Linked DNA regions of Homo sapiens: all the other regions are linked to region 2. Evidence: fine-mapped expression QTL. A gene starts in region 2. Each other region holds a variant in brackets. All regions are shown on one strand. Distances are from middle to middle.

What was found. PIP is the estimated chance that this variant, and not a neighbour inherited with it, causes the effect.
Region 1: its variant is fine-mapped to the expression of MMP17 in whole blood (INTERVAL, PIP 0.96).
Region 3: its variant is fine-mapped to the expression of MMP17 in whole blood (INTERVAL, PIP above 0.99).

The regions. Positions count from the first base shown.
Region 1 is chr12:131,612,737-131,620,909 of GRCh38, reverse strand. No RefSeq gene overlaps it. Among named protein-coding and RNA genes, the nearest start is that of LINC02414, 31 kb to the left of the region's middle. RefSeq lists enhancers at 2,324-2,824, 2,825-3,325. The variant G/A (reference allele first, on the strand shown) is at 3,574.
Region 2 is chr12:131,823,391-131,831,563 of GRCh38, reverse strand. MMP17 (matrix metallopeptidase 17) reads right to left here and starts at 3,171. Exons shown (of 10, transcript NM_016155.7): 1 at 2,911-3,171. The coding sequence starts at 3,069. RefSeq lists silencers at 928-1,187, 3,177-3,306 and an enhancer at 835-1,444.
Region 3 is chr12:131,846,990-131,855,162 of GRCh38, reverse strand. It overlaps MMP17 (matrix metallopeptidase 17), which reads right to left. Exons shown (of 10, transcript NM_016155.7): 9 at 5,104-5,361; 10 at 3,392-4,238. The coding sequence ends at 3,889. Among named protein-coding and RNA genes, the nearest start is that of MMP17, 23 kb to the right of the region's middle. RefSeq lists an enhancer at 3,547-3,716. The variant C/T (reference allele first, on the strand shown) is at 3,271.

The DNA.
Region 1 (8,173 bases), 210 kb after region 2:
CTATGTGGTCCTGAGGGGGACAACAGATGTCCCTAGGGTCCGTCCAGGACTCACCTGCCTGTCTCTGTATTTCTCTGCCAGGTCACCCCTACTTGGTGCACGTGATTCACAGGTGGGAAGCCACGCCTCCCAATCAGCATATTTCATACTGTGGTCCTGGGATTGGCTCAGGCATGGCCATGTGACCCAAGCTGGTCCAATGAGAATGTGCCCGGGACTTTTTCTGAAACCCCTGGGGAAGGGAGGCTTTGCCTCGCAGTTGCTCAGTTAAGAGGAGCTCTCTGAGGGCCATTTCCAGGCCGCCTTCCCCCATCAGGGACACAGGCAAAGTGCAAGAGCCCTGAGGATTTCCAGGGCTACAAAAATGTTTTAATTTCTTTTAAAATTAGAAGAAAATATGAGCTCTTAGGTCAAAGAAATATTAACCTATTCATCTTTGTACCAGTTGTAAAATAGAAGCTTAAAGGTGATTTTATGGAGGAAGGAGCCCACGAATGCAAAAGGGCCCAGGGCCCATGGAAGCCGCGTGCAGCCCTGTCTCTGCCGCCGCACAGGAGGGGGCCTGAGATGAGGATGGTGAGCTGACGGCCAGGGCCGGGTGAGGGTGACGCCCGGGCGGTGCCAGCCATCCACAAAGTCCTGCTGTGTGTGTACTGGCGTGGGCAACCTCATCAGAGCCCCACGGCACCTCACCATGATCGTTTCACAGACGGGGAGAGCGGGACCCAGAAAGGTTAAGCAATGCCACCAAAGCCACACTGCTTGAAAGTGGGAGAGCTGGGTCTTGAACATTGAGTTTGGCTGCGGAGTCTGAGCTGGGGAACCGCTGAGCTGCTTTCTGTCTGAGGGCAGGGTTGAGCCTGGGCCTGTCCTGATGCTGCCAGCCCCTTCTTAGGGTGCTCAGGTGAGGGCGTTGGTGAAGCCCCCTTTCTGTCACTTGCCTCCAAGACAGCCCAGATGACACACATGTGGAGCAGGGGCAGAGGAGAGCTGGGCAGTGGCTGCACCAGCCAGGAAGCAGATCCTGCTCCGCCGGGATATCAGACTATGTGGGCTCTGCAGCATTCACGATCCTACACTCCCACTCTGGGGTCTGGTGAGTCCTCCCCCTGCAGCAGGAGAGCAGGCTTTCCCAGAAGGTGAGCCCCACTGCTGTCCAGATGTGTGATGGCAGCTTCCTGTGAGGAACCAGACATTGTCCAATTGTGGGGGGTCTGGCTTCTTGGAGGTTTGCAGAGTGTGGCAGGTGTGGAAAAACTTGAGGCCAAGGAAAGTCCTTTCGAACAGGATTAAGCAGGTGGCATGTTGGTTGTGGTGATTCCAGTACTGTGTGCGTGTGTGTGTGTGTGTGTGTCTGTGTGCATGCACGTGTCTGCACATATGCATTCATGTATGTATGTCTGGGTCTGCGTGCGTGGGTCTCTGTGTGTGCATGCATATGTGTATATGCATTGTGTGCCCATGTGTGTGCACATCTGTGTGCACCTGTTGAGCCAGTTCTGTGAGTCCCCCTGAGGGCCAGGAGGCCGTGGGCAGGGCTGGTCCTGGAGAGCACTTTGTTTTCTTCTCCACACACTTTGGGTTCCCCCGCTGAGTGCACCCCCTGCATTTGGCTGGCTGCTTTCACCCCAGCCCCGCTCCTCCTGTGCCCAAGAACCTCCTCCTCGTCTCCTCCTCTGTCACGCAGCTGGTGCAGCACACCAGGCCTGCACTGAAATGCATCGGGGAGCAAAAGGGAGGTGAAGTCAAACATCCCATCTGCTCCTGTCCACGTCTTCAGGGTCACTGCCAAGTTCTGACACTGCCGACTCCCCACATTGAGGGCAAACAGCCCCCCCGAATGCAAATCTCACTCCTTGTTTGCAGTCACTGAGAAATTCTTTCTGGAAGATGTTTATTGTTTCTCCTTCGCTCTGCAAAATCATCAGTGTAGAGAGGATGTCTTAGGAGTTTCCAGAATAAGGAAACGAAGGAGCAGCGACTCATGTGGGTCCTCTTGGGATGGCTGAATGGAATGCAGAGAGGGGAGGAGAGTGGAAAATAGAGCATGCATTTTGAGAAAATTTCGAGCAGTTTCTCAGAAGCCTTGAGCCTTGGAGGAGGCAGAAAGGGAAATTATTTTCAGCTTTGTGTATGCTGTTTTCCGAGGATAGCACTTGTCTATCAGAGGCTGACTTCCTGAAGACTTTATCTATCAGATTAGAAGCCTGTATGAGAGCCTAGGTAAAAATGCAAATTCCTAGGTCCCAGCCCAGACCCTGGGATCAGAATATGGAGTGTGAGAGACCCAGGTTCTTGCGTCTCTGCAGCCTCCCACGTGATTCAGATGGTCGCTAAAGTGGGAAGACCAGGCTCCTGAAAGAGCGGATGGCATCTGCGCAGTTGAAGCATCGTTTGTCCATTCACTCATTCAGCAAATGTCACTGAGTCTCTTGAGGTGCCAGCGCTGTCTCTGGTGCTGAACCAGGGCCCCGCGCTCACGGCATTCACCTTCCAGTGGAGGAGACAGCTTGTATCTGAGGGAGTCCCCCAGCAGTCAGAAGGGACACGACGGGTTAACTGAAGAGGGCTTAATAAAGGGCAGGGGTCGGGACCGAGGCTGTTTATGCCAAGATGGCAAAACCCAAGAGGTCTGTGGGTGGCGACGTCTGAGACTCTAGCGGCCGCCTGGAGCTTCCGAGGCTCACCAAGAGCAAACCTGAATTGCTTTCCAGGCCACATGTCCATGAACAGCACGTGCAGAAGCAACACCCGGAGGCCTCTCCACTCCCCAGGGGCTGGTGTGGGAGGCGGCCGTGGCACCAGGAGCTGCTGCATCCTGCAAGTGCACTGCCCGGTTATTAGTCATGGATGGCATCCAGAATTTCTCCAGCATACTTGGGCCCACCAAATAGTCACAGCAGCACAAACGGCCCAGCAAATCAGAGGCCCTGAGGGACAGGACCCAGAGCTGGGAGGGTGCACAGGACAAGCCTGGCTCCCTGCGTGCCTGGAGGGTGGCTCCCTCGCCCTGGCCACTGTAACTCCGACTGCCTGTCCTGGAACACGTGCCTGCCATGGTGTGAGGGTACACAGGGTAGCCTGAGCCCTACCTGAACTTCAGAGACCAGGGGCACGGGGGGATCCCTGGGCTGATATCAGAAACAAGGGCATCGGTGCTGGCGAGAAAGTAAGGGGAGGCCCCGGCCCCCTGCAAAGGATCCCGTGAGCCCCCAGGTAGCTGCTCCCAGGACATGGCACTTGGACCCCCTCATCCTCACAGTCTCGGACCCGACTCCTCCACGTAGCCAACACCATAGGATGTCAACAGTGTCTTTAAAGCTATGAGGCTCCCAAACAAACTCTCCTCTTCCCGCCCCAGTCGCCTCCATTCCCAGGACATACTCGGAGCTCTCAGGCAAGCGGGACTGCTGTGGTCCTCAGCCGACAGTCCCGGGGTGCAGCCAGAGACCACACTGCAGCCTCAGCCCTCTCCTGCCTGCCTCCACTCTAATCTCCACTCCGCATGGTGCTCTGTCCGACGAAGGAAGTGGCTCGCTGGTCAGGAGAAAGCCCACTCCAGGCCGTGCATTC[G/A]GGAGCTTTCCATGGAAGGAGCCGGGTACGCAGGTGGACGAGCAGGACATCAGCCAGAGGCTGGAAGACACTCCAGGGTCTTGGCAGTGGGAGCCTCCAGGGCCCTGAAGGTTTATTTGAGCCACTGTGCAAGGGGGCTGGTGCCTGGCTCCATGTGGAGACCTCCCCTTCCCCCAGGACAGAGCGAGCTCCTTCCTATGGGATTTCCAATAAAGCTCCTCACAACTTAGACGAGTTTCTAACCTAGGGGATTCATCATTTCACTAAAATGTATTTACTGAGTACCTACTGCATGCCACGTGCCATGCCCGGCATGAGAAACAGAGGAACAAGAAGGGCAGGACACATCTGAGGAGCCTGTGTCCTGGGAGGCGGACAGGGTGGGATCCAGGAGCAGGACCGGGCCTCATGACTCCTGGCTGGGAGGTGGACAGGGCGGGATCCAGGAGCGGAACGGGGCCTTGTGACTTCTGTTTGGGAGGCTTGAGCCACAGAGGAGGTTGGCGCCACCTTCTCTGGAGGGAAGGCAGAAGGACAGAAGTTTTGGAGGAATCACGAGTTTGGTTTGGGCCGATGCAGGTTCAGCAGCCATGAGGGCCCTGGATGGGTCCGTGTCTCCTCACAAAGGAGTTGTTTATGACTCCAGTTATGCACCCATGAGTAGCATGAGAGCTATACCAAGGTCTGTTTCCCGGCTACTGTGAACCTGGGGGGTTTCTGGTGAACGGAGCCCACACTGACGCGGGGCAGAAACACACGTTCCATCGTTCTGAGCTGAAAGGGGGCAGCCTGGACAGAGCACATGGTGGGGAGAAGCCGCTGTTCCCTGCTGTGCCGGGCTGGGGTGACTGGCGGTTGATAAACAGCCCCGCTCCTAACAAAGAGCCCTGGAGCGGGAGCCGGCACAGTCGACGTGCCATTTATCTTAAGGCTTTCAGGGAGGAAAAATATATTTAAAAAAAAGCTCCTGGGAAATGGACAATTATTAATGAAACTGTTTTATCAGTGACTTCACTCATTTGCCAGGCAGGGAGATGCTGACATACAAGAGTGAGGCCAGGTGGGCTTTGGAGGGGGCTGAGAAGGTGGCCAGGAGCACAGCGTGCCCTCTCAGCTGTCAGTGGGTCTGCAGGCCCCAGACGCCCTCTCTGAGGACAGCGTTGGGAGTAAGGGCCGCCATGAGCTTCATTTAATTCACCTGACATCTGGGGAAGCCTGGGGGTGGCTTGCAGAGCCCACACTTATGACAAAGGGGTGTTGTGGGACCACAGGCTCTTGGTTCCCTAATCGTTCACTGGAAAGTCAGTGACATGAGGCAGATTGAGTAAGAGGAGAAAAGCACACACATTTATTTACTGACCATGTGTGCCTGGGAGCCTTCAGAATGAAGATCCAACCCAATGATGAGGTACGGAAGCTTCCACACCATCCTGAGGCACAGCAAGGAAGGCTGAGGACTCTAAGCACTGCCAGAAACAGGTCATGCTGCAAAGTCAGGCTCAGTGGCAAGACAGGGAAACAGCGGGAGAAAGGAAGAGGCTTGGCTAGCACAGGCAGCCTTGTTATGGAGGTGAAGCCTCCCTTGGAGAGGATAGACGGGAAGTGTTTCTTTTCAGACTCTTAACAGTGTCAGACTCTCAATCTCTCCCAAATCTGGGAAAGGTACAGAAAGTAGAGGGGGCCTGGCTGCATTAATGGAGATTCTCTACAGGGGCCTGTGGCAGCTGTTTCAAATTATGTCAAGCAAATGTATTTTGGGGTTACATATTTTAAATTCCTCCAGCATTCTCTGCAGTTCTCTGCTGGTGCAGATGGCTCTGCCTGTGGGCTCAGGCAACAGCTCAGACCTCAGGAGTGCACGGGGCGGCTTCTTCTAGGAGGCTCAGAGGTGTTGATGAGAAATGCCAAACTCTAAAATATTTGAAGAGATGTATTCTGGGCCAAATGTGAGGACCATGACCTATGACACAGCCTCAGGAGGTCCTGAGAACATGTACCCGAGGAGGCTGGGTTGCAGCTTGGTTTTATACGTTTTAGGTAGACATAAGACATCAATTAATACATGTGAGGTGTACATTGGTTTAGTCTGAAAGGTGGGACAACTGGAAGCAGGGTTGGGGGCGGCTATAGTAGGTCATAGATGGGTTCAAAGATTTTCTGATTGGCACTTGGTTGAAAGAGTGAGGTTATTATTGAAGGACTTGGAATCAATAGAGAGGAATGTATGGGTTGAGATGAGAGGCTGTGGAGACCAAGGTTCTTATTACGTAGATAAGTCTCTCAGATGACCACCCTTAGAGGAAAAAGGTGGCAAATGTTTCCTATTCAGACCTTTAAAAGATGCTAGACTCTGGAAAAGACCTGGAAAGGGCACGGGATTCTCTACAGAATGCAAATTTCCCCCACAAGAGACAGCTGTGCAGGGCCATTCCAGAAATAAATAAACAGATTTTTGGGTAAAATACTTAGATTTCTTTCAGGGCCTGCTATCTCTCATGTGACAATTTACTAGATTCGGGTTGGAATTTGGTATCTTTTTTTTTTTTTTTTTTTTGAGACGGAGTCTCACTCTGTTGCCCAGGCTGGAGTGGGTGGCATGATCTTGGCTCACTACAAGCTCTGCCTCCTGAGTTCAAACAATTCTCCTGCCTCAGCCTCCCAAGTAGCTGGGATTACAGGCACCGGCCACCATGCCTGGCTAATTTTTTTGTATTTTTAGTAGAGATCTCCTGACCTTGTGATCTGCCTGCCTCGGCCCCCCAAAGTGCTGGGATTACAGGCGTGAGCCACCGCACCCGGCCTGGAGTTTGGTATCTTATTGCTACAAAGAGTCTCTTTGGTCAGTCTTAAAAATCTGTTTTAATGTTAACGCTGGCCAGTTGCGCCAGAAATGCCAAGGGAGGAGGGTATCATGAAGCATGTCTGAACCCCCTTCCCATCAGGGCCTGAATCACTGTTTTAGGTTTACTTTGGAATGCCTGTGGCTGAGATGGGGGGTCCATTAGTTGGTTGGGGGCCTTAGAATTTTATTTTTGGTTGACAGAGGTCAGCAGTGAACACATGGCTTCCCAGACCAAGTCACCCATGGATGAGAGGCCTGCTGCTGCTGGAGGGTGATGTTCTCACTTGGTCTGGAGGTAACACAGGCAGCCTCTCTGCATGGAAGTGTAACTAGTGTCAAAAGAAAAACCTTAGACAAATTAAATTTAACAAAGTTTAATTGAGCAAAGAACAAGTTGCGAATTGGGTCATGTCCAGAGCCAGAGTAGGCTCAGAGGCTCCAAGGCAGCCACATGGTGGAAGATTTATGGACAGAGAAAAAGGAAAATGACCACAGAAAAGGGAGTGAGGACAGAACACGCTGGGTCGGCTGCAGCTGGGACAGAACCCACCGGGTCGGCTACAGCTGGGACGGAGCCCGCCGGGTCGGCTGCGGCTGGGACGGAGCCCGCCGGGTTGGCTGCAGCTGGGCATTTGCAGACCTCAGTGGCTGGCACGAGAGTAGGGTAGTCTGTTTACACATCCACTTAGGTTTCAGTTCTCTATGTACAGAGAAACCTTTAGGCTGAACTTAAAATATGTAAGGAGGCAGCTTTAGGCTAAACTTAATTTAACACCAGGGACCTCAGTTTTAAAAATCACATACTCTCTTTTTCTTCCCTCCCTCTCCTCTCACTCCGATTCCTTCCCTCTCCGGACACTCCCCTGTAGCAATGCACACTCATCTAATTAGATTCTTGCTTAAGAAATTGCAGAGGCTGATCTCAAAACAAACCGGGCACTGAGCCCCCATTGTGGACTCTGCTGCTTAGGGGAAGTCATGACCAACGTCCACCACCACCGGGCCCAAGTCAACATGGCACCATCCAGACCTCCGTCCACCCAAGACAGCCACTGGGGTGAGACACACAGGCCCTGCACCCCGCGTGGCTCCCGTGTCACGTTTCCCAGCTCCCCGTGGCACATTTTAACATTTAAGATGGTGCTTTAGAACACCAGTTCATCTTCTTGGCTTGTTGGCTTTCCGATGAAAGCTGCTTTCCCTCCCACCACCCCTTGGCCCTCATGTCTGGCTTTTGAGTGGTGAGCCGTTGAACCTGGGTTACAGAGGGTCCAGGGCCCAGCTTGTCCCTGAGGTTCAAACCCAGCAGGCCCCAGGCGGCTGTCACCAGGGACCCAGCTATGGTCTGAATGCTTGTATCTCCCCAGACGCATCTGTGGAAATGCTAACCCCCAAGGTGATGGTGTCAGGAGGTGGGAACTCTGGGAGGTGATGAGATTATGAGGACTGAGCGCTTTTTCTGGGGTTAGTGCCCTTCCAAAAGGGACCCTAGGAAGCCCCCAATCCCTTCCACCATGCAACAATGTAGTCAGAAGGCGTCGTCCATGAACCAGGAAGTGGTCCTCATCAGATGCTGACTCTGCCAGCCTCTAGAATGGTGAAAAATAAATTTCTGTTGTTTCTAAGCCACCCATTCTGTGGTTTTGTTTCAGCGGCTCAAATGGACTGACCAACACGGATTCTAATGTGGCTTCTCGGGGTGGGGGGCCGCGTCCCATCCCTGCTCTGTTTAAACCCAGGGCTCTGCAGCCTCGGCTG
Region 2 (8,173 bases):
GGTTTTGGCTGGGGGTGCTCGCCTGAAGCTCTGGGAGCAGCTGCAGGGTGAGAGGGGACACCCTGGCCCCAGCCAGGGCGATGACAAGGTCCTGAGGGCCAGGAACCCAGAGGCCACCGGCAGAAGCCAGGACATGGAGGGCGGCTGCCACCTGGCACCATCTGGCCCAGCATCCCACAACCTCAGCAGTACCCCCCACCTGCCCCGCCCCACCCCACCTCCTACAGAAGATCAAGGGAGCTGCCACTGTGCCGTGGGCGCGGTGATGACAGCCACAGGCTGTGCTGCCGAGAGGAGAAATGGAGCAGAAACTTTAGAGCAGCTTGTCAAAATCTGCCACCACACAACTGCCACCCAGGACCCAGATCCCGAGACACTCTCGCCGCGAGTCCGGGAAGTTCTGGCCAGAAGCAGGCTGCAGGCCGAGCCTGGCTTAACCAGGTGAATAGACGGGCGGCTCCGGCACAGACACTCCAGATAGCGTGCGAAGCTGCAATCGCACGGCCCACGGTGCCACCGTGCAAAAATAAGGCACGGAGAGCCGCGTCCCATCCGTGCCCAGGAACCAGGGGCGGGAGGGAGGCGGACGCCTGTGGAGACCCTGGGCTGCTCGCTGTATGTCGTACTCAAAACACAGAAAGACAAAAAACTCAGGCCCACAAGGACAAGCAGCCCCGCCAAGGACCCCCGGGGGGACAGTGCGCTCTTTTGTCCCCGCCGGGGGCTCCTGAAAGCCCGGCTCCGCAGCCCAGCAGCCTGAATCCCGGCCTTGTTCACGTGCATACGGGGGGCGCTCCGGGGCGGGCCCTCCCCTCCAGCCCCGGCTCCAGCCCTGCTGGGTGCAGCTCTGTCTGCAGCTCTGAGACAAAGGAGCACTTCTCGTCCCTGGCGCCCAGACCTGAATATCAGTCCACTCCGGGAGCGCCTCCGGCGAGCGGGCGGAGGAGGAGTCCCCGCTCCCGCCCAGATCCCGGCCTCCTCGTCCCTCCCCGCGGGGAAGCCGCCCGCCCCTGGGCCTGAGCTCGGCCCGCGGTTCCCCGAGGGCCAGCAGAGGACGCCCCGCACCGCCAGTGTGAGCAGGAAGCCGCGGCAGGACGGAGGCTCCACGCCAGGCCGGGCCCGACACGGAGCGGGGCTCCAGGCAGGGGGCTGCCCGCAGCGTCCTCCCTCTCCGGCTGGACACCGGGGCCCCACTCACTGCCCCCGGCCAGGCTGGGGAGCCACATCCTCCGCTCGGTGCTGTCGCAGGGCGCGGGGCGGGTGACCCCCGGGGTGCCAGGAGAGACCGAGGCGCAGGTACCAGCCGAGAGGAGGGCGCCTGACCCACTCTCTCCGGGCAGGGGGGCAGGTGGGTGGCGAGAAACTTCCAAACCGCACTGGGTCTGATCAGCCAACATGGCTCGGCCGGGGGTCCATCCTCCTGAGTGTGTGGGCCCCACCTTGAGTCCTTCCCTGGCATTGCCCCGGCCCCTTCTGCGGCACCCTCGGACCTGGAAGGCGGGCCTGGGTTCACCTCCCTCCACAGCTGGAGACCCCAGGCCCCCAGGGCGTGATTCTCAGTGGGGGATCCGGGAGATCCGCACCTACAAAAGGGTCTTGAGGAGGTGGAGGGGGGCACCCCAAGTTCACAGGCTGCCTGGCTGGAAGGAAGCCACTGTGGGGACCTGCAGGCACCTGGACGCGGGCAGCAGGGACAGTGGCCAGCACCCTCCCAGATGGCTTCGGGGCCTGGGGCAAACGGTGGCCAAATCGGCTTCCCATCCAGACCCCCTGGCCAAGTCCTGCCAACCACAGGGGCTGCGGGTGCCACCCAAGTGGCCCCTCCATATGCCTCGACTGCCTGAAATACACCTGCGCTGACTTGCTTGGACCCCAAGGTTTTGGAGCTCCTGAATGTCCACTGCGCTGGGCGAGGGGCCCTGCCAGGACCCCACTGGGAGACTGTCCGCGGACGAGGGCCAGGCCGAGTACTTGTGTGGGGCGGGGAGGCCTCGGCTCCTGGCCCGACTCCCTGGGTAGGAGTCCATTGAAGGCAGCGGTGGGGCAGGAGCCTCAGAAGGAACCAACGAACCCAGCGGGAGTTCACCCGGCCGCCCCAGCGGGGGGGCGCTGACCCCACGACGTGTGCTCTAAATCTTCCGGGTCCACAGGAGACGCGAGTCCCGGCTGCGGAACAGGGGAGGGGGCTGTAGGAAGAGGCCACGTCGCTGCCCCCAGGCAGGGTTTCTAAGCTGAGCTGGGGACAGCTACTGGGTGTGGAGTGAGGAAGGCTCTCCCCGCGCCCCCGGCTCAGCACTGTACCAGGGCAAGGCAGGGCCAGCCTGGCCGACCTGGGGTGGAGGGGAAGGAGGCTGAGGGCCAGGTCCTTGTCCAGTGGGGAGCTGGGGGCCAGCATCCCTGTGCCCCCAACACCCTCAACCGAGCAAACTCGGGGGCTCAAGGCTTTCGGGGTGCCCCCACTCCGTAGCCCCTGCCCTTCCTCGCTTTGTGGGTGCGTGCTCCTGCCCCCGCCACTCCCACCCGGAACGCACGCAGCGCGCAGAGCTCGGGGCGGCCGCGATGCCTGCTCTCGCCCAGCCCGGCTGCTCCGGGGCTGCTGCAAGCCGGCGACCCGGGCTCCGGGTGGGCGACCCCCTCACAACTCCACGGGCTCCTGCGGCTGCGGCGCGCTCCCAGCGCACGGAGCCGGGACGGCAGCCGGCGCCTCCCCAGGACTCGCGTGCGCTCGCCCGGTCGCTCAGCCCGCGTCCCTGCCTCAGTCTCCCCACCCAGGAAATGGGTCCAGGGCGCCAGGGCTCCCGCGCGACGCCGACGTGCACTGCTGGGGTCTTCCCGGTCCCCGCCACCCGGCCCGCGGAGACCCCCGGCTCCGGCCCAGGAGCTCCGCGCCCGTCCCGCCCGCGCGCTCACCACTCCCAGGCTGAGGTCCTCGGCGCGCGGCGCGGGTGCGGGCGCGGCGCAGCCCCCGCGGGTCCCCAGCGCCAGCAGCAGCAGCAGCGGCAGCGGCAGCCGCGAGAGTCCGGGCCCTGGGGGCGGCGGGCCGGGTCCCCGGGCTGCGCGGCGCCGCATGGCGCTCACATGGGCCCGCGGGCGGCGTGCAGGGTCCCGCGCCCTCCGCTTCGCGTTCCGCAGCCCGGCGCCCTCCGCTCTCCGCGGCGCCCCCGCCGGACTGAGCCCCGCGCGGCAGCCTCAAGCGGCGGGGCGGGGCCATGCAAATGTATGCTAACGAGGCCGGCCGCCTTAAAGGGCCCGCGCCGCCTCGGACGCTGCCACCCCCGCCCGCCCCGCCGTGTCCGCGACGGGACTGGGTCCGCGGCATCACAGGGAAGGCGTTTCCCCGGGTGTCTTAGGACGCTCTTGGGGCGGCGGGGACGCGCGGGATGGGCGCGGAGGCGGGGGTCGGGGCGCCTGCGGGGAGCTGACCCTGACTCCCCTCTCCGGCCGCGCTCCCGGGTCCACCCCCCACGGCGCCGAGGCCCGGGTTCAGACCCGGGTTCAGGCCCCGGAGCCGCCGCCGCAGCGCAGCAGGTGGGCGCTTGGTGGAGCCCGCGGACCGCGGGAGAGGGAGGGTGGGGCTTGGGGGGCGCGGGGGACTGGAGGGCGAGGGCGGGTGTTGGGGGGGCTGGGGTCCTCGGCGGAGGCTCTGCGGTCCCTGCGGGCCTGGGAGCGAGAATGTTAACTTGTAATGTTTGTTGGAGCGCAGCGTGTGCCTGGCACATGCCCAGGAGTTACATAAATAATTTCATTTACTTACAACATTTATGAGATGAAAACTATGATTTCCATTTCGCAGACAAAGAAACTGAGGCCCAAAGAAATGAAGTAACTTATGGGAGGTCCTGGAGCGGGCAAGCGGCAGAGCCAGGGTCAGAGCCCGAGCAGGCGCTTGTGTGGATTGAACTCGTGCAAGTTGCGTACAGGCTGCCCACCGAGTGGGAGATCTTGGGAGAGGGCAGGGGGTGAGGTTCAAGGGTAACCCTTGCCTTTATTCAGCTTCTCCTCGTGCTGGACAGCATGGCTTCCCCTCCTTCCCAGGCCCTCCTGCTCCACCACCCCAAATCGCAGCTGGTACTGTCAGGACTGAGGTCTCATTCTACGGACAGGGAAACTGAGGCTCGGCCCCTTTTACCAGAACTGGTCTCAGGGAAGTGGTGCCCCTCCCCTCCTGTGAGGGCCGACTCCCCCCAACCACCCCCCCCCCCCCCCCCCCGCTTCCCTGGGTACTCTGGCCCATCCTGTCCCTGCTGCCCTCAGAGCCTCCCTGGCCCGGTCTGAACAGGGTGATTCCACACCTGCTTCAGATGACCTTGGTTCGGACTGATGGGATCACCTGTAGGAGGTGGGGACTTTCACAGGACATCCCGGATTGTTTTTTCTTTCTTTCTTTTTTTTTTTTTTGCTCTGTTGCCCAGGCTGGAGTGCAGTGGCACGATCTTGGCTCACTGTAATTTCTGCTTCCTAAATTCAAATGATTCTCCTGTCTCAGCCTCCTGAGTAGATGGGATTTCAAGCGTGCACAACCGTGCCCAGCTAATTTTTGTATTTTTAGTAGAGACGGGGTTTCACCATGTTGGCCAGGCTGGTCTTGAACTCCTGACTTCAGGTGATCAGCCCGCCTTGGCCTCCCAAAGTGCTGGGATTACAGGCGTGAGCCACCGCACCTGGCCTCATCCGGGATTTTGACCAAGTGCATCAGGACAACCTGGTTTCCAGAGCAGAGACCCAGCCAAAGCGGCTGTAGTCAAGGAAAGGAAGCGTATGGGTATGGGCTCAGGAAACGGTGGCGTCCTAGCGTGTGCCAAAGTCAGGCAGGGCTGGACCAAGTCTCACAGCAACAGCGTCAGAACGCGGTTTCTCTCAGTCCATCTCTGTGTGGGGCAAAGACGGCCCAGGGCAGCTCCTGTGCATCCTTCCCCCTCAGCAGGCCCAGCCAGAGACAGACTCTTTCTCAACCAATGGTCCCAAGGCCACCTCTCTCTGGATTCTGGGTCAGGACCTGATCGTGGGGCCAGGGGCAGGGAAGTGAGCTGAAGCCCTGGGCTGGAAGGGATTCTCTACAGGAAATCAGAGGTGCTGAAGTCAGAGGAAGGGAGGGTGGATGGCAGGCAAAGCTGGGTCGAGGACTCAGAAGAGGGAACGCGGCCAGTGCCCCCACTGCATCATGGGGCTCATACACATCTGAGACTTGGAACAGGACGCTGTTGAGGGGCTGTAGCTCGGTGCTGGCAAGGGGCTTCACCGCGGGGCTTGCTGGCATTGAAGGGAGATGGCTTGTTTATGGAGCTTGGGCGACAGTGGCTTGGGATGTACAAATGTGAGAAGGGCCTTACAGGCAGGCCACTGTTCTCCCCAGAAAGGCCTGGTGGCGGCTGGTGAACTGGAGATGCTTGGTTAGACATCGGGAATTTGACCTTCCTCAAAGCAGCTGCCTGGCACCATGGCTGCTGTGTTCCCTTCAAGCCTGCCACCCCATTCGGACATCTGAAAGCCGCTGAGATCCAAGCCCCGCAAGAAATCGCTCTTCTCCCATCAGCTTTGCAACGCTGAAAAATCATGACGGCACGGTGGCTCACACCTGTAATCCCAGCACTTTGGGAGGCTGAATTGCAGGCGGATCGCTTGAGCTCAGGAGTTTGAGACCAGACTGACGAATATGGCGAAACCCATGTTTCTACTAAAAATATAAAAATAGCTGTGCATGGTGGTGTGTGCCTGTGGTCCCAGCTACTTGGGAGGCTGAAGTGGAAGGATCACTTAAGCACAGGAATTCCGGCGAGACAGAGCGAGACCCTGCCACGAAAAAGAAAGAAAGAAAGAGAGAGAGAGAAAGAAAGAAAGAGAGAGAGAGAAAGAAAGAGAGAGAGAGAAAAAAAAGAGAAAGAGAAAGAGAAAGAGGGGAGGGAGGAAGGAAGGAAGGAAAAAGAAAAACCACGTATTATCATCTGTGGAGGAGGGTGTGGGGAGTGGGCACTCAGGCTCCTGGTACAGCCCCTCGGGAGGGCCACCAGGTAGCAGCTATTACGATTCAAGAAGCACATGTTCTGCGGCCAGAATTCTTGGCGTCTGCTGTAGAGGAACGCTCCGGTCTTTGCACGGGAAGGCTAATGCAAGCATGGTGTTGCAGCGGGATTTGTAATAGGAAAGAATTCAGAAACTGCCCACGCGCCCACCCATGGCCGACTGGCTGATCCAGGGCCATGTGTCCTGCTGGCTGTGGCCAAGGGCATGGGTAGGGGCTGGAGTCCCACCTGCACCCTGTTTATGGATCCATGGCCTCACCGTGGGGCCACAGCACATGAGGAATCAGGCACCTTTCCAAGACCCACAAAGCTGCTGTGTAAGCTGGTGGCTGCCCTGGGCTGACAACACTGGGCTATGACCCAAAGACAGAAGCCAGGAAGAAGGGATTCGATCCAAGAGTATCCGCAGGGCCACTCAGACATATTGCTGGATTTTTTTCTTTTTTAAGACGGAGTTTTGCTCTGTCACCCAGGCTGGAGTGCAGTGGTGCGATCTCGGCTCACTACAATCTCTGCCTCCCAGATTCAAGCCATTCTCCTGCCTCAGCCTCCCGAGTAGCTGGGATTACAGGCACCTGCCCCCACGCCCAGCTACTTTTTATATTTTTAGTAGAGACAGGGTTTCACCACGTTGGCCAGGCTGGTCTCAAATGCCACACCTGACTTCAGGTGATCCACTCAACTCGGCCTCCCAAAGTGCTGGGATTACAGGTGTGAGTCACTGTGCCCGGCCTCAGACATACTGTTGAGCAAATTAAACAATTTATGAGAAGCAAGAAAAGCAGAAAGCAGAAAAGACCCACAATAACTGTATCTTGTATTTATGTTTGCCACGTGCACATCCACACGTTGCATCACATCTTCTGAGCCCCCTGATCCAGCCTTGCCTGCTATCCATCTCCCTTACCCTGCAATTTCCTTTAGAAAAGCCACCTTTGTCCCTGTCAGCCCAGGGTTTAGTGATGCTGCCCCATGCCTGGAGCATTAAACCTGGGCTGGGCCCATCAGCTCATTTCCAGCCCCTGGCTGGAGACTCAGGTAGCGTTGTCTGTGGACCATGAAGATGGGCAAATGACAGGCGGGCACTATTGTCGGAGCTCTGTGGGACACACGCTTGGGGCTCCTAGCTGTGACATGAAGGTTGTAGGAAAGCCAGAGGTGCCCAGCCCTGGTCTGTAGCCATCCGGGTGCAGACACTCTGACGGGCAGCTCCCAGGTGGCCCTGCCCACGGTTGCTCCTGTGGGGACCCAGGACCCTCGTGTCAGGCAGTGAGGAGGGGGTGCTGTGCCCCTGGTTGTATCGCTCAGGGTGAATTCCATTCAAGGCTCTTTGGGTGTAAGTGACAGGAAGCCCAGTGCAGAGAGGCCTGAGCACAAAACACTGTGTTTGGCTTATGTCACCCATTTCAGAGATGGGCCCTCCCTGGACCCTATGCCAGCCCCAGCCTGGTTGGTCTTCTCCTCAGCCCAGCGTCTTCGAAGTCCTGGTTCCAAGTCCTCATGCACTGGTACCTGGCTTCCCTGCTGCCACGAACACCACCAATGGAGGTCCTCAGCCCCTCGTTGTTGACTTTTAAATGTTAATTAATTAATTAATTAATTATTTTTGAGATGGAGTCTCACTCTGTCGCCCAGGCTGGAGTGCAGTGGTGCAATCTCAGCTCACTGCAGTCTCCGCCTCCTTGGTTCAAGCGATTCTCCTGCCTCAGCCTCCCGAGTAGCTGGGATTACAGGAATGCGCCACCACGCCCAGCTAATTTTGTATTTTTAGTAGAGACGGAGTTTCTCCACGTTGGTCAGGCTGGTCTCGAACTCCTGACCTCAGGTGATCCACCCGCCTTGGCCTCCCAAAGTGTTGGGATTACAGGCGTGAGCCACTGCGCCCCGCCCCACGTATCTTTTTAAAAGATAAATGTTATCGTGTGCATTTACGGTGTACGTTGTGGTGGTGTAGGGTACGTATACGTAGTAAATTGGTGGCCACAGCAGAACGGGTGAGTTTTGCATCATCTCCCAGGCACCTGTCTTCCTCCCACAGCCAGCGCAACCATGACCCATGCATTAGCAGACGCCTGGAGCATAATTATTCTCTGCAGCCCTCAGGTGCACACGAGCCCTTTTGAAGGGGCTCACCCTGTCGCCCACTGTTTTAT
Region 3 (8,173 bases), 24 kb before region 2:
GTGATGGTGTTAGGAGGGGGCCTTTGGCAGGCGATTTGGGTTAGATGAGGTCGTGAGGGCGGAGCCCCCACAATGAGATTGGTGCCCTGGTAGGGGGTGAAGGGACCAGCACTTTCTCTCTCGGGCTTGTGAGGACACAGTGAGAAGGTGCTGGCTTTGAACCAGGAAGCGGGCCTCTAAGAACCTGACCCTGCCGGCATCCTGACCTCAGACTCCTGCAGATTGGTGGGAAAGCAAATGCCTGTGTGGAAGCCGCACAGTCTATAGCAGCCTGTCACGGCAAGCTGAGCTAAGACACCGTGCCTCAGTTTCCCTCCCTGTAACACGGCAGCTGGAGAGGGTGTGTCCTGGCCTCAGAGGTCACCCATGTGGAAGCCGCATGGTCTACAGCAGCCTGTCACGGCAAGCTGAGCTAAGACACCGTGCCTCAGTTTCCCTTCCTGTATCATGGGAGCTGGAGAGGGTGTGTCCTGGCCTCGGAGGTCTCCCATGCAGAGGCGTTGTATAGCACCCATGGGGCTGTGTGTTTTTGGTCAAAAGCCTGGGTCACGCTAAGGGCAGCCAGTGCCTTGGCCCGGCCGTGTGGCTCAAGAGAGACCCTGGGCCTCCAGGCTGACCTCCCTGGGGTGGAAGGAAGAAGGGAAGAGGTCCTTGCCCCTCACTGGGGTGGCGTGGGTCCTCTGACCTCCTTCGGAGGGTTTTGACTGTGGCTGTGGGCTGGCGATGCCCTGCCTCCTGGGCCTGGGGGCACAGCTTCTCCAAGTTGGGCCAGCACAGCCTGAGGTATAAGCAGTGACTCTGAAAATCCAGAACGTCACGTGAAGTCTCCAGGTGTTTAGATGGTGACTCAGGCGAAGATGGAAAACTGCCTGCTGAAGACACAGAACCGAGGTCCCATCACGAGGAAGGTGCAGGCGGACAGGCCGGGGGCATGGACCACAGAAGGACGGGCCGGCAGCCCTCATAGGTGCGAGGTCACAGGGGTCGGGGAAGGCCCGGGAGCTGTGCCGGGCCAAAGAAGGCTGCCCTGGGTGAGGTCTGTCCCTGCAGCATCCTCTGATCTGAGATCCACTGGCTGCGTGTCTTTCCCAACTCTGACCTTGGGAGGACACCTGCGTTCCAGGAGACACAGAAGCGAGCTCAGGGTGGTCAGCGCCTCCCAAAGGATGCAGAGGACTCTCATGCTGCGGGTGCAGCTTTCTATGAACATGAGATCCTTTCCACAAAACAACACGCCCTGCCCGCGTGTTCCTCATCCGAGACGCGCAGGACCAGAAAAGTGTTTTGGAGCTCAGATTGTTTGGAGTTTGGACACTATATTTGCATTATACTTACAGGTTGAGCATTTTTCTCTGCTTTTCTTTTTTCAAATACTGCCACTTGGCCAGGTGTGTTGGCTCATGCCTGTAATCCTAGCCTCACCTCAGGGAGGCTGAGGCGGGTGGATCACCTGAGGTCAGGAGTTCGAGACCAGCCTGACCAACATGCTGAAACCCTGTCTTTACTAAAAATACAAAAATTAGCCAGGCGTGGTGGTGCCTGCCTGTAATCCCAGCTACTCGGGAGGCTGAGGCAGGAGAATCACTTGAATCTGGGTGGCGGAGGTTGCAGTGAGCTGAGATCTCACCACTGCACTCCAGCCTGGGCGACAGGCTCTGTCTCAAAAAAAAAAAAAAAAAAAAAAAAAGTGAAATCCCAAATGTTCTGTGTGCACCCCGAGCCCATCAGTGCTCAAAAGGTCTTGGGTTTTGGGGATTTCCGACTTTGAATGTGGGGTCAGGGTAGCCTCAGCTGCATGTGCATATCAAAAGGTGGGGGCTCATGAAATGCGTCATGGGCTGGCGGGGCTCCAGGCCCTGCCCCAGGACCCAGCACGGCCACCCCACTGCCAGAGGGAGGTGGGCTGCAGCATGGAGAGGCAAGTTCAGAGCAGCCCCCCTGCCCCGCCTACGGTTCACCTCTTCACCAGAGATAGGACCGGCAGAAGAGGCTTATGACGGAGAGTTTGGACTTCAAAACCGCAGTGAGCCCTGCCAACGTGAGAGCCCGACTCAGCAGACAAGGCCCACAGCCGGCTTTGCACTGGGGCACGACCCAGGACGTGGGGACCACGGGGCTGGGCCAGCTGCACGGGGGAATTCACCCCACAGGCTGCTGGGCAACAAAGCGTGATGAGGAAACACCACTTGGTGCAGGGCAGAGCCAGTGTCCCCGACAGACAGGAGGGAGGTCGGTCTTTCCACAGACTGGTCTGACAGGCAGGGACTCCTCCTGCTCCAGGGAGCAGATGGTGAACAGGCGGGGGACAGAGGACACGGCTGGACTCCATGAGGATGTGGCCTCTCTTCACGGGGAGGTGGCCCGGCTCCATGAGGCCTGGCCTGGGGCCTGCCTGCCCGGCCCTGGCAGCCTCATCCTGGGATGGGTGCCATCCCTGGGATGGGACAAGGGGGCTGTGGGCTTTGGCTCCTGGGTGCCAGGAAGCCTCATCTGCACCCTGGGTGGCCCCAGCCGCTCCCTATGCTGGGCCTGTGGTCAGGAACTTCCTGCTATGTGGGAGTGAATCCCCCACAGTCCAACGGCCACCTCCTCATCCTCACTGAGTCACGTTTGAGGGGGCACCCGGGCCCTCCACAGCCCAGGGCAGATGCTGGTGAGCCAGAGCCTGAGGCCCCGAACCTGTGGCCCGGGGTGCGTCTGTGCCGCAGAGACCAGAGGACTGTGCACCAGCGGGAGGACTGGGCCCTGCAGAGTGGCATCGGCTGCACCCTCTGAACAAGAGGGTACTGCAGGACAGACGCGTCACTCGCCGGCCAGAGTGGGGGCAGGCTGAGGGACTCCGCTGTGGATCTGGAGGCTGGGAGCAAAGGGAGCAAGTGACAGAGTGGCTGGAGCTAGAATCAGCCCCTTGCAGGGAGCACCCTCCCTCCCTCTTGCGCAGGGAGCACCTACCCTCCCTCTTGGGCGCACCCAGGTCCCGGTGCTCGGCCGGGCATCATGGTCTAGTGCTGCGGGGCAGACAGCGTCCCAAGTGGCTCACCCAACAACTGATGCCTTTCCTCGGGCACCTCCCACACTCAGATCTCACTGGGCCAGCTGGCGCCCCGCCCGCCCGTGATGCCCCTGCCTGTAGCACTGAGGCTCATCCCCCGCTGGGCCTCAACTCTCCCATCTGTGACAGGGGCGTGGGGACTCCTCGGGGCACGAGGACTGGAAGAGACAGCGCGGGACGGGCTGATGAACAAGGAGGAATGCGACTGCCGAGACCTC[C/T]TGGGAAGCCCCCACCCCAAGTGCAGGTGCGTGGGCCCCTGGTCAGGGTCAAGCCCCTTGAGGCCCGAGGGTACCCACTCCCATGGCCCTGGAGCACCAGGGAGCCCAGCCGAGCCGCTAGAAAGCAGGGAGAGGTCATGTTGGTCTGGAACGCGTCACAGGGGGGACGTGCCGCGGCACCATGTGGGGGGCTCGTCTGTGGGGAGGGCTGCCCCACTGGGGACCTGGGGACGGAGGCCCTGTGGGCCGGCGGGAGCACCAGGCAGCAGTGTGGGTGGGGTTGGTGGCGCCGGCACAGAGAGGGGTGGGCCCCCAGCCCGAGATGCTCCCTCCAGGGCCGGAGGAGGCTGGCGGCGGTGCGGCCTGACTGGGCACCCTTCTGGAGCGGCCACCCCTCGGCTCGTCAGTCAACACAGTCCCTCACTAGGGGACAGCTCCGTCCTTGCCACCTGAGCCTGCCCAGCCCTGGCGGACAGTGCCCTCTGCTGGCCTTCCGGTGCCAGGGTGGCCCGTCCTCATCCCGCGCCAGCACCTCCCCCAGGGACTCCGGCACAGTCCTTGCCCTCTGTGGCCAGGCTGTCCCACCGCCTCTGTCCTCTCATGGGCTCGCGCTGTGTGTCATAGCGTCAGGGCCTGGGCCGCTGTCCACAGGGCGCCTGGTGACAGTGGCGGCAGCAGCAGCAGCATGGTGGCAGCCACCAGTGGGCCTGGGGCCCCCGGGGGAGAGGATGCCCCAGAGGTGCATGAGCAGACCTCGTAACCGTCCTCCGAGCGGCTCTGGTCATGTTGTCCTGGAGGGGCGCGGGGCCCCTCTGCCGCGTCCACGCCCGCAGCCACAGATCCATCGGCCTGTGAGTCTCCACACACCAGCCAGTCCCGGGCCGTGGACTGTGGGTACCCGGGTGCCACCTCCAGCTCGCCATCCAGCACTTTCCAGTACTCCTGGCCACGGAAGAAGTAGGAGGCACCTGAGAAGAGGAGGGAGAGCTGAGCTCAGGGGAGGGCTGCAGCAGGAGGGGCTCGAGCCGGACAGCGAGGAGGGAGCGTTGGGCTCAGGGAGGGCTGCAGCGGAAGGGGCTCGAGTCGGGCCAGACAGCAGGGGGCTTGCACAAGACTGCAGTGGGGGGTCAGACCAGACGGCTGGTGGGGGGCGGCTCGTGCTAGATGGCAGGGGGTGCCCAGATAATATCTGAGATGGGGTCAGCATCTGCTCAGCTGTGGGCAGCTCTGCAGGCATGGTCACAGGCCTGGGAAGCTCCAGAGGAGCCTGCTGGGGCAGGGGATGGACCAGGAGACCCTCAGAGTCTCTTTCCCTTACTGGATATTTATTGAGGGCCCACTCTGTGCAGGGCTGTTCCAGGTGACAAGGATGCAGCGTTGAAAACAAAACAGAGGATGCTGCCGTCCCTGGAGCTGACCCTGTGGGGAGGTTTCTTCTACACTGTGGGACGTGGCAGGGGTGATGCCCAGGAGGGCGTTTGGCAGGGCTGGGGCCGGCGAGGGAGGGGCTGTGTGGACATCTCAGGAAAGTGTGCCCAGACGAGGCATGGCCAGTGCCAAGGCCCTGGGGCAGGAGCGTGGCTGGGGGAGCAGCAGGGGCGAGGGAGTGCTGAGGGCGGGGAGAACAAGGGCAGCTCGTGGGCCAGGCCTTCGGGGAGCGACTCGGGGACGCCTGCAGGGTCGGCAGCTCCAGGCGAGGGGCTGGGACCCTCAGAGCCCACACCGACCGGGGCCGTCCTCCTTTCAGGGAACCTCTTGGCTGCCCTGTAGTGATGCCCCTCTCCTGGTGGGGAAACCAAGGCCGCATGGCCCGTCCCCCCAGCTGGCACTCACCGTCGGACCAGCGCATGGCGTCGTCCAGCGTGCTGGGGACACCCCTCCACAGGGGGCTCTGGGCGGGGTAGCCGGGGTCCATGTGCCTCGTGTGGTCATCGTAGCGCCAGTACAGCTGGTCCTTAAAGAAATAAGTCCTGTCATTGTGGGCCCAGGAGAAGGCAGCGTCGATGCCGCCAGGCGGGAGGCTGAAGTCGGAGACGGGGCGCGGGTATCCTTCCTCTACGTTATTGTCCTTGAACACCCAGTACCTGTCTCCTGGGGGCGAGAGAAACAGCTGTGGGCCGGGGCTCGGCCCCACCCCGAAGGGCAGGAGGCTCCTGCCTTTCCTTCTCCTGTGTCAGCCGCCCTTGCCCTGGCCCCTCACCTGGGCTTGATGGGACAGCGGCCACACTGCAATCACCCCACATCACAGGGGCCACATGGATACTTAGTGAGCACCTACTGTGCCCAGTCCGGGCCATCCCATCCAGCCTGTGGACGCTGCCGGCCACCCCTTTACCGATGGAAACAACAACTCGGGCCAAACCGAGGCCCACGACATGCCATCCTATTATTATTATGATCATTATTTTTTGAGACGGAGTCTTGCTGTGTCACCCAGGCTGGAGTGCAGTGACTTGATCTCGGTTCACTGCAACCTCCGCCCCTGGGTTCAAGCGATTCTCATGCCTCAGCCTCCCGCGTAGCTGGGATTACAGGCGCCCACCACCACACCCAGCTAATTTTTGTATTTTTAGTAGAGACGGGGTTTCACCATGTTGGCCAGGCTGGTCTCGAACTCCTGACCTCAGGTGATTTGCCCGCCCTGGCCTCCCAAAGTGCTGGGATTACAGGTGTGAGCCACCGTGCCCTGCGTTAAATACACTTTTCTCCCAAGAAATATAGATGGCATTGAGCACTTGAAGATGGTCAACGTCACTAGAAACGCCCTCAAAACCACAATGAGACGCCCCCTCGCCCCCACTGTCAAGAACGTGGAAAGTCACCTGTGTCGGGAGGATATGGGGACGGCAGAGCCGGGCGCTGCCGGGGAGGGAGTATGAAATTGTGCAGCCGCTGCGGGAGACAGAACATAGGCTCCCCAAAACGTCAAAAATAGAATTACCACGTGATCCAGCATTCCCGCTTCTGGGTATAAATCCAAAAGAACCGAAAGCAGGGTCTTGGAGAGACGTTTGCACACTCACGCTCATAGCAGCGTCCTTCACAGGAGCCCAGAGTAGAGGAAACCCAAGTGAGCAGGCGAACGAGGTGCAGTCCGTCCGTGCCATGGAATGCCGCTCAGCCTCAGCCAGGAAGGAAATCCTGCCACGTGCCACCGCGTGTATGAGCCCCGAGGACCTTCCGCTGAGTGACACGAGCCAGGCACAGAGGGGCAGATCCTGTCTGTCCCACTGACATGGGGTCCCTGGAACACTCAGAGCCATGGGGACAGCAAGCGAAGTGGGGGTGCCCAGGGGAGGGGCGGGGCTGCCCAGGGGCGGGGCGGGGCATCCGTGTTTCACGGGGCAGCGTTTCCGTTTGGGAAGGTGGAAATCTTCGGGAGGTGGACGCAGGTGACAGCTGCACAGCAACGTGAACGTGCTTCATGCCACCGAGCTGTGGCTTCAAAATGGCTGAAATAGTAAAGTGTGCTCACCACGCCCACAATTTAAAACGACCAAAAAACCAGACCGGGAGTGGTGGCTCATGCCTGTAATCCCAGCACTTTGGGAGGCCAAGGTGGGTGGATCACCTGAGGTCGGGAGTTTGAGATCAGCCTGACCAACACGGTGAACCCTGTCTCTACCAAAAATACAAAAAATTTGCCAGGCACGGTGGTGAGCGCCTGTAGTCTCAGCTACTCAGGAGCCTAAGGCAGGAGAACTGCTTGAACCTGGGAGGTCGAGGCCGCAGTGAGCTGAGATCACACCACTGCACTGCAGCCTGGGTGATAGAGTGAGACTCTGTCTCAAAAAAATACAGTAAAATAAAATTAAAAATAAAAATAATATAAAAAGACCAGAAAAAGTCCTTTGCTGGAGACTGGAAAGGGCTGTGATGTCTGTAAATAGGGGGAGGGATTAAGGAGATGATGGGAGGACCAATGGGCCCTGCCCTGCTATGGCTGAGCAGGAACCAGGACAGATGCGCCTGGTAGGGAACCAGGCAGGGGCAGGCGACACAGGGGACAGAGGGGGAGCAGGGGTGAGACGGCCTGTGGCAAGAGACCCACATGTTCTCAAGTCTCTCCTGGCAGGTGACCAACCCCTCACACCCAGAAATGGGGCTTTATGGTAGCGAAACCTGCAGACACACCTCATCCAGGTGACCACAGCGAACATCACCAGGCAGGGCGGCTCGGGGCTCAGAACACCTGCCCTCGGTGGCATTCCTGCCAGATGTGCAAAACCAGAACCTGATCTGGAGGAGATGCCAGACGGGTCCACCTGGGGGAAGCGGCCTGAACACTTCTAATGTGTGCAAGGCAGGGGAGCCGCACGTGATGGGATCCTGCTCGGGGAGGCTCTACAGGGCACCCTGGGGCCTTTGGCAAGGTGGCCTAGGGGAGGTTAGGAGCAATTGGTCATGAGGTTTGCAAGTAATTTTCTTTTTTCTTTTTTAGTCCAGGTACTGTCTTTGGGGATTTTTTTTTTTTTTTTTTGAGACGGAGTCTCGCTCTGTCACCCAGGCTGGAGTCCAGTGGTGTGATCTCACCTCACTGCAAACTCCGCCTCCCAGGTTCACGCCATTCTCCTGCCTCAGCCTCCCGAGTAGCTGGAACAACAGGTGCCCGCCACCACGCCCGGCAAATTTTTTGTATTTTGTAGTAGAGACGGGGTTTCACCGTGTTAACCAGGATGGTCTCGATTTCCTGACCTTGTAATCTGCCCGCCTCGGCCTCCCAAAATGCTGGGATTGCAGGCGTGAGCCACTGCGCGTGACATTTTGGTTTTTTTTTTTTTTTAGACAAGGTCTTGCTCTGTCGCCCAGGCTGGAGTGCAGTGCACGATCATGGTGCAGTGCAGCCTTGACCTTCTGGCTCAGGTGGTCCTCCTGCCTCAGCCTCCCAGGTAGCTGCAGCCTC